Regions from separate parts of the Homo sapiens genome. Here region 2 is linked to region 1. Evidence: fine-mapped expression QTL. Tissue or cell type: subcutaneous fat. Region 1 holds a variant in brackets; the other region holds the start of a gene. All regions are shown on one strand. Distances are from middle to middle. Region 1 has its middle 14 kb from the start of SELENOK. Region 2 holds the start of ACTR8 (actin related protein 8).

Evidence for each region.
Region 2: ACTR8 starts here. The variant in region 1 is fine-mapped to the expression of ACTR8 in subcutaneous fat (TwinsUK, PIP 0.95). The same link has a PIP of 0.9 or more in neural progenitor cells and skeletal muscle.

Annotation. Positions count from the first base shown.
Region 1 is chr3:53,901,647-53,910,181 of GRCh38, forward strand. No RefSeq gene overlaps it. Among named protein-coding and RNA genes, the nearest start is that of SELENOK, 14 kb to the left of the region's middle. The variant C/CA (reference allele first, on the strand shown) is at 4,026.
Region 2 is chr3:53,878,977-53,886,976 of GRCh38, forward strand. ACTR8 (actin related protein 8) reads right to left here and starts at 3,176. Exons shown (of 13, transcript NM_022899.5): 1 at 3,003-3,176; 2 at 963-1,133. The coding sequence starts at 3,125. SELENOK (selenoprotein K) reads right to left here. Exons shown (of 5, transcript NM_021237.5): 3 at 7,875-7,958; 4 at 6,850-6,936; 5 at 5,441-6,585. The coding sequence ends at 6,582. RefSeq lists silencers at 2,803-2,912, 3,303-3,392 and an enhancer at 3,063-3,142.

The DNA of each region.
Region 1 (8,535 bases):
CTTGTATGAAAAATGTTGTAATCCTGCTAAAAATTCCTCTGTCTCTGCCTGTATAACTGACACCTTAACTTCCCTACTTCAGAACACTGACTCCATTCCTTTGGAGTTGGTGTTTTCAGGTGGGCCATCCTCACGCTTTGCACTCTCCGTAAATTAGATTCTGACCATTTTGATTCTTTTAGGTTGACAAAAGCTAGAATATTATAATGAACCCCTTTGTACATACCAACCAGTTTAGACAATTATCAACTCATAGCTAGTCTTGTTTCATCCCACCCACTTCCCCCATTTACTCAGATTATTTTTAAGCAAATCCTAGATGTCATATAGTTTCATCTGTAAATATTTCAGCATGCATCTCTAAAACACAAGGACTCCTTAAAATATATAATTGCTATGCTACTTTCCCACCAACAAAAATTAACAATAATTTCTTAATGTCATTAAATATTCAATGTTCCAAAACCCCCTGCTAATTATCACAATTTTTTTCCATTTTCATTTGTCTAATAAGTATCAAAATACATTGCAGTGGTTGAAATGTCTTGATAAATCCCTTGTCATGTGTGAATGACCATGTTACTGGAAAGGGGACCTGATCCAGACCTGAAGAGAGTGTTCTTGGATCTCGTGCAAGAAAGAATTTGGAACAAGTCCACAGTGCAACATGAAAGCAAGTTTGTTAAGAAAATAAAGTGGTGAAAGAATAGCTACTCCATAGACAGAGTAGGGCATTTCTGAAAGAGGAGAAAAGCACCCACCTTGTTTATATATAGGATATATATATAAATGCTTGTTTATATATAGGATATATATATAAATGCTTGTTTATATATAGGATATATATATAAATGCTTGTTTATATATAGGATATATATATAAATGCTTGTTTATATATAGGATATATATATAAATGCTTGTTTATATATAGGATACATATATAAATGCTTGTTTATATATAGGATATATATATAAATGCTTGTTTATATATAGGATAACAACAACAACAACAAAATCATGGGGAGATGCACTCTACTACAAGGGTTTGTGATAAAGGATTAATTTTCTTAATTACTATATTTTTCAAGAATCGATATTATTAAAGCAAAATTAGGAATGCTTCTGTGCTAGAGATAACGGGATGTTAGGACCATTCCTGAGTCTGGGTCTGTTTAGTAAACGTTATCAATCTGTTTCCTTAACCGTAAACATCTAGAGGCTAGGAATACCTAACTTCCGGGGAATGCAGCCCAACAAGTCTTAGCCTCATTTTTTCTAGCCCTCACTCAAGATGAAGTCACTCTGGTTCAAATGAATGCTTCTGACAACCATGTATTTTAATAAAAATAAAAATTTCTAATAAAGAAGAGAAAACTAACAAACTTCTGTCCATAGGAGGAAACCCAGTGTTCTGATGATTTGGTGACTAGTGTGATATGTTTTCCAGGAACTAGGTAAGTACCAAATATCATGTAGATACTGACTCCATTACCCTATTATCTGAGTACTCTGAGTACTCTTCTTTTTTTTTTTTTTTTTTTTTTTTTTGAGACGGAGTCTCGCTCTGTTGCCCAGGCTGGAGTGCAGTGGCACAATCTCAGCTCACCGCATGCTCCACCTCTCAGGTTCATGCCATTTTCCTGCCTCAGCCTCCTGAGTAGCTGGGACTACAGGTGCCTGCCACCACACCCAGCTAATTTTTTGTATTTTTTTTTTTTTTTAGTAGAGACAGGGTTTCACCATGTTAGCCAGGATGGTCTCGATCTCCTGACCTCGTGATCCGCCCGCCTTGGCCTCCCAAAGTGCTGGGGTTACAGGCATGAGCCACTGCACCCAGCCTATCTGAGTACTCTTTAAGGAGTAATATTTTTCAAGTAAAAAAATCATAAAAATGATACATTAGGAAGACATCAGCAAAAATGATGGAGTAAGAATCTCCAAAAATTATCTTCTGTATAAAAACAATGAGCAAATTTGCAAAAATGGTCTCAATCAATTTTTTTAGAACTGTGAAATTAACCAAAGGCTTGCAGCAATCAGGAGTGTTCTCGGACCAAACTGAAGGTCAGGCTGCTATTTCTTGTGGCCCAATAACGAGATGCAGATGAACTGGGGGAGGAAGAGAGTTTTTATTTCTGCAACTGGTTATAGGGAGAAGGCCTGGAAATTATCACCAGACCAACCCAAAATTACAAAGTTTTCCAGAGCTTATATACCTCCTAAGCTATATGTCTATGTGTAAGTGTGCATTCATCTAAAGACTTAAGTGATTAACTTTTTTAACATATAACTAAGGTCTAAGTCCTGAATACCTTCCTCTGGAGCCTCAGTAAATTTACTTAATCTAAATGGGTCCAGGTACTGGAGTGATTACCCTTATCTTGTCTCCTGCTAAATCATGGAAGTTTGGGGATTCCTTCAGACCCCCAATAAACTTGTTTGTGGAGGCCTGGGCAGTTTCTTCAGACCCCCAATAAAACTTGTTCTTAAATGGGTCCTGTTAAGAATTCCTTTGTTATTTTGTTATGCTTTAAGGCCCAGGAAAGGTCTAGGCAAAACTCTTGATGGGCTTTTGTTACATCCCAGCCTTTGTATAAGGGCACTAGCTTTTAATATTTAACTTAACCACTCAGTACTGAAACAGTTGTTATGGAGGCCTGCATTAGTGAGACCTGGCCTACCACAAGGAGAGCATTAATTCTAAAAAGATGGCTGAATCGGGTAAAAATAGCAATCATGGTGCCATTTTCATTTGCCCTATTCCCATTCCCCCTTCTTCATTTCTGCAGAAGCTTTGAAAACCATCAGCCCTTAGTCATACAAACCAGCAGCCTGGCAGTCAATAAAAGAGCAGAAGGGGGTTGGTGAACTATTAAAGCCCCCTTCACAGAGAATTGTCATTATTTTACCTGTCTGAAGAGTCCCTGGAAGTTTCTATTTGCATGGCTTTTTTAAAATCTGAATCAGGAACTCAAGTGTAGAAAAATACTTATCACAGGGGCATTTGTTGAAAACAATTAAAAGCAATTGATTGACTTTGTGACTGCCTCAGGCAGTCAGTAACAGTTGGGGTAGACAATAGGCTAAACAGAAAGCTTAAAAGGAAAACTGGGCAATGAGATATCCACAGGGCCTTTGAAAAGCCCTGACATATTCTTAGGAATCTACAAGGCCACCTGCATGAATAGGGCTGTGTACATGCTGAAGAAAAACTTGATATTACTTCTAGATGGTGAGATTAAAAAAATAATAAGCAAACTGAGTAGGTCCCAAGCTCTCACATCTGGCCAGTTTTGAGATGGAACAAGCAGGAAGTGAAGGATAAGGCAGAATTGCCAATTACCCAATTGAATGTTGAAGGCATGCCCCAACACACACCCAGATCCCTTCTGCAAAAAGTGGCAGACTTATTGGTTCCAGAGCTTTAAATCTCTGTCTAGTCATTAGCTGACTACTAAGCTAACTGAGCAGAGACATCAGTAGCTATATATGACAAAGAATACAGCCTTTACAGCATTGGTTTTAAAAAGTCACTAAACAACTTGGAGAAGGAAGAAGAATCTCATTTTCAGAATTGCCACATTATATTATTTAAAATGTCAATTTTTCAATAAAAAGTTATGAGATATGCAAAGAAGAATACATGGACCATAGAGAGGAAAATAAAAATAACTCCAATAGAAACTGTTCCCAAGGAAGCCTGGATGTTGGACTTAGTAGATAAAGATTTTAAGACTGGGCATGGTGGCTCATGCCTGTAATCCCAGAAATGTGGAAGGCCAAGGCAGGAGGATAACTTGGGCCCTGGAGTTCCAGTTTGAGACCAGCCTAAGCAATATAGTGAGATCCCATCTCTACAAAAAAAAATTTGTTTTAATTAGCTGGATGTGGTGGTATGTGCCTGTGGTCCCAGTTATTCAAGAGGCTAAGGTGGGAGGATCACTTGAGCCTGGGAGGTCAAGGCTGCAGTGAGCTGTGATTGTACCACTGCACTCCAGCCTGGATAACAGATTGAGACTCTGCCT[C/CA]AAAAAAAAAAAAAAAAAAGAAAAAAAAGATTTATGGGCAAAGAAGCAAAGCAAAGCAAAGAAGCAAAGCAAGCAATGTCTAAAGAATGAAAAAGGCCAGACATGGTGGCTCATGTCTGTAATCCCAGCACTTTGGGAGGCTGAGGCAGGTGGATCACGAGGTCAGGAGATTGAGACCATCTGGGCCAATATGGTGAAACCCTGTCTCTACTAAAAATACAAAAATTAGCTGGGTGTGGTGGTGCACACCTGTAATCCCAGCTACTTGGGAGGCTGAGGCAGGAGAATCACTTTAATTTGGGAGGTGGAGATTGCAGTGAGCTGAGATCACACCACCGTACTCCAGCCTGACGACAGAATGAGATGCTGTTTAAGAAAAAGAAAAAAAAGAAAAAAAAAAGAAAGAAAGTATGACTGATTGACTGATGTTTTGACAAATAGAAATATCAATAAAGAGATCAAATTTTGTTTAAGAAGAGAGAACCAAATAGAAATTCTAGAGTTGAAAATATAGAAACTGAAATAAAAATCCACTAGAGTGGCTCAACAGCAAACTTGAGCAGGCAGATGAAACAATCAGTGAACTTGATAGATTGAGATTATCCAATCTAAGGAACATAAAGAAAAAAGAATGAAGAAAAGTGAACAGTTTTTAGAGACCTGTAGGACACCATCAGTCATACAAACATATGCATAATGGGAGTCTCAAAAGAGAGGTGGGAAAGAGGGATAAAGAATATTTGAAGAAATAATGGCCAAAAACAGTTCAAGTTTGATGAAAAATATTTGTCTATGCACCCAAGACCTAAAATAACTCCAAATAAAATAAAACCAAAGAAATCCATACCTAGATACATGATAATCAAACTGTGTTGAATCTTTAAAGCAGCAAAAGAGAAGTGACTCATCACACACAAGGAATTCTAAATAAGATTAACACGTGATTTCTCACCAGAAATCACGGAGGCCAGAAGGCAGTGGGATGATATATTCAAAGTGCTGAGAGAAAAAGATTGTGAATCAAGAATTCCATATCTAGAAAAACTATCCTTCAAAAATGAATGAGAAAATAAGACATTCCTGTATAAACATATCCTGAGAGAATTCATTGCTTTAAAATCTGCCCTACAAAAAAATACTAAAGGGATTAATGCAGACTGAAATGAGAGGACAGTAAGCAATAACTCAAATCCACATGAAAAATAAAAAGCACTGGTGTGTTAGTTTCTGAGGGCTGCTGTAACAAATTACTACAAACTGGGTGGCTTAAAACAACAGAGATTTATTCTCTCACAGTTCTAGAGGCTAGAAATTCAAAATCTGGCAGGGACACATTTTTTCCAGGGCTCAAGGGAAGAACCCATTCCTTGCCTCTTCCAGTTTCTTATGGCTTGCCCAGAATTCCTGGGCTTATAGTTACATCAATCCAATCTCTGCCTTGTCTTCACATCACCCTTTCCTCTGCGTCTGTCTTCTCCTGTGTGTGTGTATTATAAGGACACTTGTTAGATTTAGGGCCCACCTGGATGATCTCATCTCAAAATCCTTAACTGTCTTACATCTTCAAAGATCTTTTGTTTTTTCTTTTTCAAATAAGGTAACATTTTCATAGGTTTTGGGGTTTGAGACATGGACATATTTGTAGGCGGCCACCATTTGCCCCTCTACAATCAGTAAAGGTAACTACATAGGTAAATAAAAAACACAGTGTAAGTATATTTTTGTAACTTTTTCCTCTTAACTAATTTAAAAGATAAGTGCATTAAACAATAATTATAAAATCTGTAATGATAGGCAAACAATGTAAAAAAAGGTGTAATTTATATGACAGTAACAGCACAAGGGGGGAGAAGAAACGGAACCATACAGGAGCAAAGTTTTTGTATATTTTTGAATTAAGTTAGCATTAATTTAAACTAGAGTTTTAAAAGTTAAGGTGTTAATTGTAATCCCCAGGGCTACTACTAAGAAAATAAGTTTTAAAATATGATAAAATAAGCAACAGGGGAATTAAAAGAAGTCAGTAATGGAGGAGTAGAAATCAAAAAGGCATAAGACATATAGAAAACAAATAGCAGAATGGTAGAAATAAGCTCTGCCTTATCAGTAATTACATTAAATGTAAATAAACACTTCAATTAAGAGGCAGAGATTGGCAGAAGACATTTTTAAAAATGATTTCTGTGTTTCTTACAAAAGACACATTTAGATTTAAGTACACAAATAAGTTGGCAGTAAAAGGATGGAAAAAGATATACCATGCAAACAGTAACCAAAAGAAAACTGGAACCACTATACCAATATCAGATACAATAAACCTTAAGACAAAAATTATCAGTAGAAAACAAGGATATTTGATAAGTATTATAAATCAATACACCAAAAAGGTATAAAAATTATAAACATATATGTACCCCAAAATAGACTTTAAAAGTGTATTAAGCAAATACTGATAAAAGTGAGGAAAGAAATAGACATTTCAACAACAATAATAGTTGGATAATTCAACATCCCACTTTCAATACTGGCAAGAAGACATACACAGAGATAAACAAGAGAATGAAAGACTTGAACAGCACTAAACCAACTAGACCTAACGAACCTCTCTAGAATACACCATGCCAAAACAGCAGAGCACATATCTTTTCAAGCACACATGGAACATTCTCCAGTATAGACATATGTTAGGCCATAAAGCAAGTATTAATACCTTTTAAAAGATTGGAATCATTCGAAGTATTTTTTGTAACTACAATGGAATGAAATTAGAAATCAATAACAGAAATGTAGGGAATTCACAAATTTGTCAAAATTAAACAACATATTTCCAAGTACCAATGAGTCAAAGAAGAAATCACAGAGAAAATGAGAAAATAATTCAAGATCAATGAAAACAAAACATGACAAATTAAAACATATGGCATGCAGTGAAAGCAATGCTTAGAGGGAGATTTACAGCTTCAAATGCCTTAAAAAGAAGGGAAGAAGCCAGGGGGAGTGGTACATTCCTGTAGTCCCAGCTACTTGAGAGGCTGAAGCAAGAGAATCATTTGAGCCCAGGAGTGAGAGGCCATAGTGCACTATTTTCATGCCTGTGAATAGCCACTGCACTCTAGCCTGGGCAACACAGTGAGACCCCACTTCTTAAAAAGAAGAAAAATGTCAAATCAATAACCTAATCTTCCACCTTGAGACACTAAAAGCAGCAGAGCAAACTAAATCCAAAGCAAGGAGAAAAAAGGAAGTAGCAAAGATAAGCATGGAAATAAACGAAACAGAGGACAAAAAAATAAAAATAAAGCTAAAACTAGGTTTTTTGAAAAGATTAATGCAATTCTTAAACTTTTAGTTAAATTTACCGAGAAAATATGGATTACAAGAAAAAACTATGAACAACTTTACGCCAACAAATTAGATAACCTAGATGAAATAAACCAATCCTTACAAAGATACAAACTACCAAAACTGACTCAAGACGAAGAAAATTGGAATAAATCTATAAAAAGGAAAGAGATTGAATTAGCAGTTGAAAATCTTCTTACAATTAAAAGCTCAGAATTAGATGGCTTCACTGATCTATTCTGCCAAACATTTAAAGAATTGATACCAATTCTTTACAAACTCTTTCAGAAAAGAGAATAGGAGAAAAAACATAGCTCATTCTATGAGACCAGTATAATCCAGATTCAAAAATCTTATTTTAACAAAATTACTAGCAAATGGAATCTAGAACATATAAAAAGGATCACACACCATAACCAGTTCAGATTTTATCCCAGGAATACAAGTTTGATTTAACATCTAAAGTTAATAAATGTAGTATAAAGGATAAAACCACATGATCATCTGAATAATTGCAGAAAATGCTTTTGACAAAATCTAACACCTTTCATAATTAAAATAGAGCAGTCAACAAGTGAAGGGTAGATGTGAACTTCCTCAACTTGATAAAGGGCATCTACAAAACACCCACAGCTAACATCATACTTAATGGGTAGAAAACTGAATGCTTTCCCCTTAAGATTAGAAGCAGGCAAAGATGTTCATTCCCACCACTTCTATTGAACATTGTACTGGAAGATCTATTCAGGGTAATTAGGCAAGATAAATAAATAAAAGGCATCCAGAACTGAAAGGAAGAAGTAAAACTACCTCTATTTGCAGATGACATCTTATATGTAGAAAATCCTAAGATCCTTCTCCCAGCACCACAAACACACACTATTAGAGATAGTAAATGAGTTTAGAAAGGTTGCAGAATGCAAGATAAATATACAAAATTCACTGTACTTTTTATACCCTAGCATTTAACCACCCAAAATTGAAATTAAAACAATTTCATGGCCGGGCATGGTGGCTCATGCCTGTAATCACAGCACTTTGAGAGGCTGAGGCAGGTGGATCACCTGAGGTCGGGAGTTCGAGACCAGCCTGACCAACACGGAGAAACCCCATCTCTACTAAAAATACAAAATTAGCTGGGCGTGGTGGCACATGCCTGTAGTCCCAG
Region 2 (8,000 bases), 23 kb before region 1:
ATATTTCAGAGACTCTTCCATACAATTATATAATTCTTATGTTTACAGTTTTGACAATGACACATTCCTTCATATGTTGATCAGCAAGGCTTAAACTTTTTGGTTAAGCCATAAACTTACTGGTTCTCGTTATTATAGTATAAAGAAAATGCCCATAAATATCTTTACAGAAATGTTTTCTTTTGATTTTTATTTCTTAAACGTACTCCCTAAAGTAGAATTATAAGATCCAAAGATAAATAATGAAGTGCGGACTCTTATATCAGCAAGTTATATTTAAACTTACAACTAGACTTACGTAGAGTCTGCTTGTTACACTAAAAAATGGAACCCTAAGGCCTACTATCAGAATTAAAGAAACTTTACATTCCCAAAACTATCCTTGACTTAAAACTTCAAAGTAAAATGTGGATTATGATGTAATATATAGATTTATCATTGATCACAAAGAATTTTCCTGATAATTACCATCTGCAACATAGGATAAAGTAGATGCTTACTGCAAGAAAATTTTTTTTTTGCCTTGAAATTATGGTTAATCTAAGACCATAATAAGTGCTTATTGTAACAATCTAATTTGCTAATGGATTGAAAATAAGAGTTTGACTTATTGACTTAAACTGTAAGTATCTGAAAGAGATATTTACAGTTTAAATATGGCTTAATCCATAAGTTTAAGCCTGTTAACAAGGACCTGAATGTATTACTGTGAGTGATGATTTTGTGTCTTCCATTATAGATCACCTTCATCCACACTCAATTCACCCTGAAAGACTTACTTTTGTTGTAACTAATTCTTTACATCTAAAGTCACTAGCTCTGATGAAAAATTAGTGACATTATTAATGTTTTAAAACACAGCAAAGCTATGAAGATGTTTCTTTAAGATTCTGGTGTACTTGTGTCTAAGCCCTCCCAGGGAAACAACCTTAGGCTTTCTCTCCAGGTCGTTTTTGACTTACATTTAGTCCCTCCCTTAGGAGCCAACTGTCCTTGTATAGGGGCTGCCCTTGTTGTTTGTGTCTTCGGGCAATGACGTGAGGAATGCTGGCAGGAAGAGTGTCTGTGGCTCGACCAATCCTTAAAGTTGTTGAACCTGGATGTATGACAATGATGAAGTTGCTCTGGATTTGCTGCAGATATAAAACATAGATGTGTGACTTTGTAAATAATATGCAGGTAACAAAGTTAAACAACATACACATAACAAGCTAAACTAAGAAGCTGACTCAAAGGTATCAAAATAATTCAATAAAGTTCTTTGAGAAGTATCCAATTACCGCTCTCTACCTAAACACAAACTCATTGTTTATTATGTTCCCTTGACCTGAGTTATAGTACATAGCTCAACAAATATTTGTTTAAATAAATGAAACAAAAATTGTCCACTACAAATTAACATACAGTTATTGAGCATTTATGTGACTGAAGAAATGTTGCTATAGAATCCGGGCCCAGGCTCTGAATTCACGGATCTGTCTGCAAATTCAGACTGCCACTTCCTTGCTCTGAATGAAGCTCCTAACTCACAGTTACTGTGAGAATTAAATGAGTTATACATGTAACTCAGAGCTGGGCCACAGGAAGCATTCGAGGAATGTTGGCTCTTACTATAGTAAAGCCTTTCAACGTGATCCACTGCCTTCACAAGAGGTCAGACTCTGTGGCTTACACGACCCTCATGATATGGCCCCTGCTAAGATCTTCAGTCCCCTTCCTTAACTCCAGACATCCTAATCTACTGGCTGGGCCTCCAACACTTCACATCCTCTGTTGGCACAAGTGTCTTCCACACTGTTCTTCTTCCCTGAGATTCCCTCCTCCCTCTGGTTAGCTCCTAATCACCTTCAGGACTCTAAACAGATGTCACCTCACCTCCTTTGAAGAAACCCTCCCTGACTGTCGGGGATGGAGGAGGTACTTGCTTGAGTGCCCAATACTGCCCTCTGCACAAGCCCATTCCATGCCATGCTCTGATACCTGTTGTCCTATCTCCAAGTGTGACCTCTCTCCTCCTAATCACCCCCCACAGAGTGGGAGAATCCTAGAGGGAAGGATCTGGCAAGGCCCTTACAGACCATCCAGTCAGCCTTCTCAACTAGACAGATGGAGAAACCAGGCCTGTGCAACAGTAATGGCCACTCTGGGCTTACGGTGTGCCAGGCACTGTCATACTAGTGATAACTAACTAGTAGCTGCCCTACTAGTTAGGTATTATCCTTAACCCATCTACCGGTAAGGAAGCTGGATCAGAGATGTCCTACATGAATTTCTGAGCAGTTTATGCCTCATTTCTTCTGTGAATTGTACACTGCCTGTGCCCGTTTTCCTACGTGAATGCTGTTTTAGTTACTGATCAGTAAGGTTTTGTGTATGTGTATACATCTAAGGTCCTCTGCCAGGCACGCTACTGCAAATAATTTTTTCTGGTTAGTTTAGTTTGGTCTAATAGTGTTGTTTTTGATACACAAGCTCTTAATATATATTTAGACAAATGTCCACCATTTCCTTGCTTTTAAGCTTGAAATGACTTCCATTATCTGAGATTTCCTTAACAAAGGAAAAAGCCTGGACCCCAAACTATCCCTTAACAAGCACAGGCTGACGCTCCCAGTGAGCCAGCCTGGTCCTAAACTCTATCTGCCACCATTTAACCCTCACGGCAACTTGCGAGGCGGCTGGTTATCACCGTGGTCGTTTTATGGTCGGGGAAGCTGAGGCCAGAGCCCGGGCAGGAGCGCACACAACCAGACGGTGGGGCGTGCGGGAGATCGGAGCGGTGTCCCTGCGGGGGCTCCGCCTGGCTCCTGGCGCTCCGCACCTCCCAGCCCTCGGCGTCCCGGCGCGCCACCACCCGGAAAAGAACGACCGCTTCCGCACTCCCCCCACCAGGGGCTGGGGCCTGCAAGGGGGACTCGAAGCCTCCCGCCGCCTCCCGCCCCTTGCCTGGCAGCGGAGGACCCAAGCAAGGGCAAAGAGTTCCAACCCAGCCAGAGCCGCACCTCTTGCAGCGACTCCGGCACCAGCGCGGGCACGATGGGCCGCTTCACGCCGCGCTGCTCCTTCTCCTTCTCGCCGCCCTTCTCCTTTCCGTTCTCCGTATCACCCTTCTCAGCCTGGGTCATTATGGCCGGAGACACCCACCAACCTCTCGCCTCAGCGCTGCAGCCACGACTGCCGGGATGGAAGGGCCACCGCGCAGGCGCACGGCCGGCTGCCCACAGTCAAGATGGCCGCCGCGGAGTCGCCCCAGAGGGCTCCGAAAAGGCGGGGGTGGGGCTGCCCGGCGCAGGGGCTGGGGGCGGGGTGTGCATGCGGATTGATTGGGTGGGTGTTGCTGTGATTAGTCCTGACTGTGTAGATGCCAGCAACATAGTACACATAGCTTTTCGAGCGCCTAGTGGGGGTCGGCTGATAACCCGCATCTTATTTCGTCCTCACAGGCATCTCTTCTCCTGGCTTCCCAGATACCATATGTACTCTTAGTTTTTCTCATATGTCTTCATGTTCAGTCCAGCCTCTGATGTTGGGGTTAGGTCTTTTCCAGGCACACTCCTTGGGTGACTATCCAGTTTCCTGGCTTTAGCAATGAATACGATTCCCAAATATATATATCCAGGATGAACCGCTCAGAGAGATCCGTACTGATAACCAGTGCCTACTTGGTCTCTCCATCTGGATTGTCTACAAGGCACTGCAAACTTAAATATGTCCAAAATTTAACTCTTGATTCCCTCCCCTCTCACTTTCACCATCTCAGTAAATGTCATTTTGATTCTTCACTTGTTGACAGCTTCTACATCCAATCCATCAGTAAATCCTGCAGTCTCTAAAATAGATCTTGAATTCATCCACTTCTCCATTCCCATGCCACTACCTAGCCCAAGCCACTATCATCTCACCTGGATGACTACAACAGCCTCTTAACTCGAACTCCTTGTCCTGTCCCCCTATGATCTGTTCTTATATAGTTGCCCACGTTGTTTTAAAATATTACGTAGTTAATACTACTATGTACCCAGCACTCCACTAAGACTTACCTCAAAAATTAGATGTCACTCATGCTTTAAACTCTAATGGTTTCCCTTTGCTCAAAGAACAGAATCTAAACTAACCACCACCTAAAGACCATATCTAGTTATTGCTACATTTCTAAGTTCACCTCACAACACTCTCCCCATTCCTTGGCATTTCCAGCTACACCTGTTTTATCTTTCTCAGACATGCCAAGCCCTTCCCGTCATCGGGCTGTTGCACTTGCTGTTCATTTTGCCTTGGATGCTCTTCCCTCAGCTGTCTCATTCTCACGTCTGAACTCAAATGTCACCTCAGGCCTTCCGCAGTTATTCTCTCATCATCCTATTCCCTTTGAAGCATGAAGCATTAGTCTGTAATTATCATGCCTGCTCACTGTCTCCCACACTAGAATGTAAGCTCCGTGAGACTTTGCCAGTTATCTTCAGCACATGGTAGGTGCCCAATAAGCATGTGATGACTAAATACTAAATAAAGAACTCTTGGAGGTAAAAATTTAATCCCCGTTTTACAGGTGAGTGAAGTGGGATAAAATGGCATAATTCACTCAAGATCATAAGCTATTGAGTAGCAAAGACAAGAGTTAAGCATAAAGTACTCAAGAACCTGTGTTTTACATTCTATCTGAAGTGCAAAGAAGAATACCTGAATGTCAAATGCAGCCAGAACTCTGGGATAAGACCCGAGGAACAAGTCCTGCAGCAGCAGTGCTAGGAGGCAGAAGAGGACCATGGTTCACATGCTCAGGAAGAGCCATCAGTAACAACAATCAACCACCTACTGAGACTCTGCCATGGTCTCCCCGCTATAGGGTAAGGTGGAGGTTTAATAATGCCTCTGCCATTCACTGGCAATACAATCTAGGAAGCTGCCAAACTTTACTGAACCCTTGCATGTATCTGTATAATGCAAATGTCATTATACATTTACCTCACTTTGTATATATGTATACATTATACATATCCCTCACTTTGTCAGAATTTAAAATGTGTAAAAATTTACAGGCTGGGCATTGTGGCTCACACGTGTAATCCCAGCGTTTAGGGAGGCCATAGTGGGAGATCACTTTAGCCCAAAAGGTCAAGGCTGCAGTGAGCAGCCACTGTACTCCAGCCTGGATAAGAGTGAGACCCTGTCTCAAAAATAAAAATAAAAAATAAAAATAAAATAAAAATTAAAAAATAAATAAAATCTGACACATAATTGAGGTGGCCAGCAAACTGTTATCCTTATCCTGAAACCTGCATTGTAATTGCTTCTTTATCCTGAATATTGGTATCTTATGCCACAACATCCCATTTCCCGACAAACGGGGTTGAATAAATGCTGATAAATCAATATAAAAAGGCTTTCACCTGAACACTTGGTTTCAAAGCCTGTTAAACACCAGAAGAGGAATTATCTGTTTTCGTTTTTCCAATAAATATTTATTTCCAATAAATACTACATGACTATCTTACATGTAGTCACTATTCAAAGGACTGGGGTAAAGACAACAAAATTCCTAGTCTCAGAGCTTCCACTCTAGTGAAAGAATGTGAAAGTTATCAGTATTCAGATGGAGTTTAAAGCCAATAGGCAGTATTTTGAGTGATGCTATAGAGTGCAAATTTGTCAAGATAGCATGGAAGCCCATGGTTTTATTTATTTTTTTGAGACAGGGTCTCACTCTGTTGCCTAGGCAGGAGTGCAGTGGCATGCTCACAGCAACCTCCGCCTCCCGGGTTGAAGCGATTCTCCTGCCTCCGCCTCCTGAGTAGCAGGGATTACAGGTGCACTCTACCACGCCTGGCTAATTTTTGTTATTTTAGGTTTCGTCATGCTGCAGGCTGGTCTCAAACTCGTGAACTTAGGCGATCTGCCCGCCTCAGCCTCCCACAGTGCTGGGATTACAGGCATGAGCCACCGCGCCAGGCTGAAGTCCATGATTTTAAAAACTATTTAGTAAATTTTCATTTTGTAGCTCAGTTTTGTTAGCTATGGTTTTATAAATACCCTGATAATTACATTTGGTAGCAAATTAGACACAGTGTATTAAAGATTGATGAGACAAATATGTTAAAGATAAAAATTAATTCAAGAGCACAGATATGCTATGCATACTACTAAAATAAATACAGTGATTTATAAATGAGAAAAAGTTAACAATGAACAGTGTTTCAGAAGTTGAAAAGGTGACACTAACAGTGCTAAATACACAGGCTTTTATTTGTTTTCTTCAGATTGCTTTTTCGTGAATATAAAGATGAGGAGTCCATTCTGCAACCTAAAAATATTTACTTATTAAAACTATATTAATACTTTAATAAACTATACAAAAAGGTAATGAGACAAACATCTGCATTTATGGAACTGCATGTCAGTCAGGCCAGTTCCCTGCAGAGGGAATTCCCAGCATGACCTCATTCATCTGTGAGGACACAGAGCAGTCCTTGTTTAGACATACACATTCATCTACTGCTCATCATGGTCAGCCTTCCACTTCTTGATGGTTTCCTTCTGCTATGAATGCGCATGTCCGGTTGTCTGCTTCTTAGAGCAGACATTTACCTGAAAGAAAATGTTACAATAATTAGTTACTGGTTATTAATTTGGATCTGTGTGAAAACCTCAACATATTACATGTTATAAAATCTTTCTCAAAAGACATTTTGATAACAAGGCCAGTGAATTTTTCAAGGGTTAAGATAACAAATATATTTCCAAATAATGTCTGAGTAATTATAAGCTGCTGGGCAACTTCTTAAAGAAAACATTACTACAGAAGTGTTTTCAAAACAAAATCCTACAAAAGAATTTCAGATCTGAAGTTACCTTCCTCATCCACCAGCCATTGGAGGGGGACTAGGGCCACGCAGATGATTGATTCTACCCATTCTTCGGGGAGGGTTTCCTGGTGGCCTAATAAAATAAAAAGTTAGTATCTACTGTTTGATAGACACAACTTGAATTGTCTCCTTTTAAAAGCACTCAACTAGACCCTTTTCTTTTTCAGCACCCACATGACCCTAAAACACAATTTAAAATAGAAACTACCATTTTAGGTCAGGAGGCAAAAATTAAAACACTTAAAGGGACCAGACACATAATGCACACAAGGAACTGAGTCAAGAAAGGACTGTGATGAACTGAATAGCACCTCCAGTAATGCCCCACTGAAACCCAGCTCCAGCTGATTTTTGCCAGGTAGAAACATAAGCCTAGCCCAGTGCTACTTGATCTTGATCTTTACGGCTTTTTTTTTGAGATGGAGTCCCACTCTGTCTCCAGGCTGGAGTGCAGTGGCACGATCTCAGCTCACTGCAACCTCTACCTCCTGGGTTCAAACAATTCTCCTGCCTCAGCCTCCTGAGTAGCTGGGACTACAGGCGCATACCACCACACCCAGCTAATTTTTGTATTTTAGTAGAGACGGGGTTTCATCATGTTGGTCAGGATGGTCTCGATCTCTTGACCTCGTGATCCACCCGCCTCAGCCTCCCAAAGTGCTGGGATTACAGGCTCAAGCCACCGTGCCTGGCGATCTTCTAAGTTTTTAATTAGCAACTAGAAATCCAGATGTTAAAATGAAATCTTTAGATTTTAATGGTGGCCATCAGTTTTCACCCTCTAATTTAGACTTTTTCCATGGGATATTTCATGTATATTTTAGCTTTGTCAGATTAACTGATTATTATCAAATCAGAAGCAATTTGACTTTTAATTTACAGTAATGCATTAATTTTGTAAAATAGGATTTAAACTTTTAATTTCCAAAAGTCTAACTCTATCTACCTAAAATATCTAATAAAGGTATACAAAGACATAAAAACAACTATTATCAATTTAAAAAGCTGTACCCTCTTCCATCATCATATCTGGAATCAGATGAGTTTCCATAGCTTCTTCTTTTTTTCACATCTTGCTGAAGCAGAGTTTTGAAACTGAAACAAGGGGCAGAAAACAACAAAGGTATCACTTTTGAC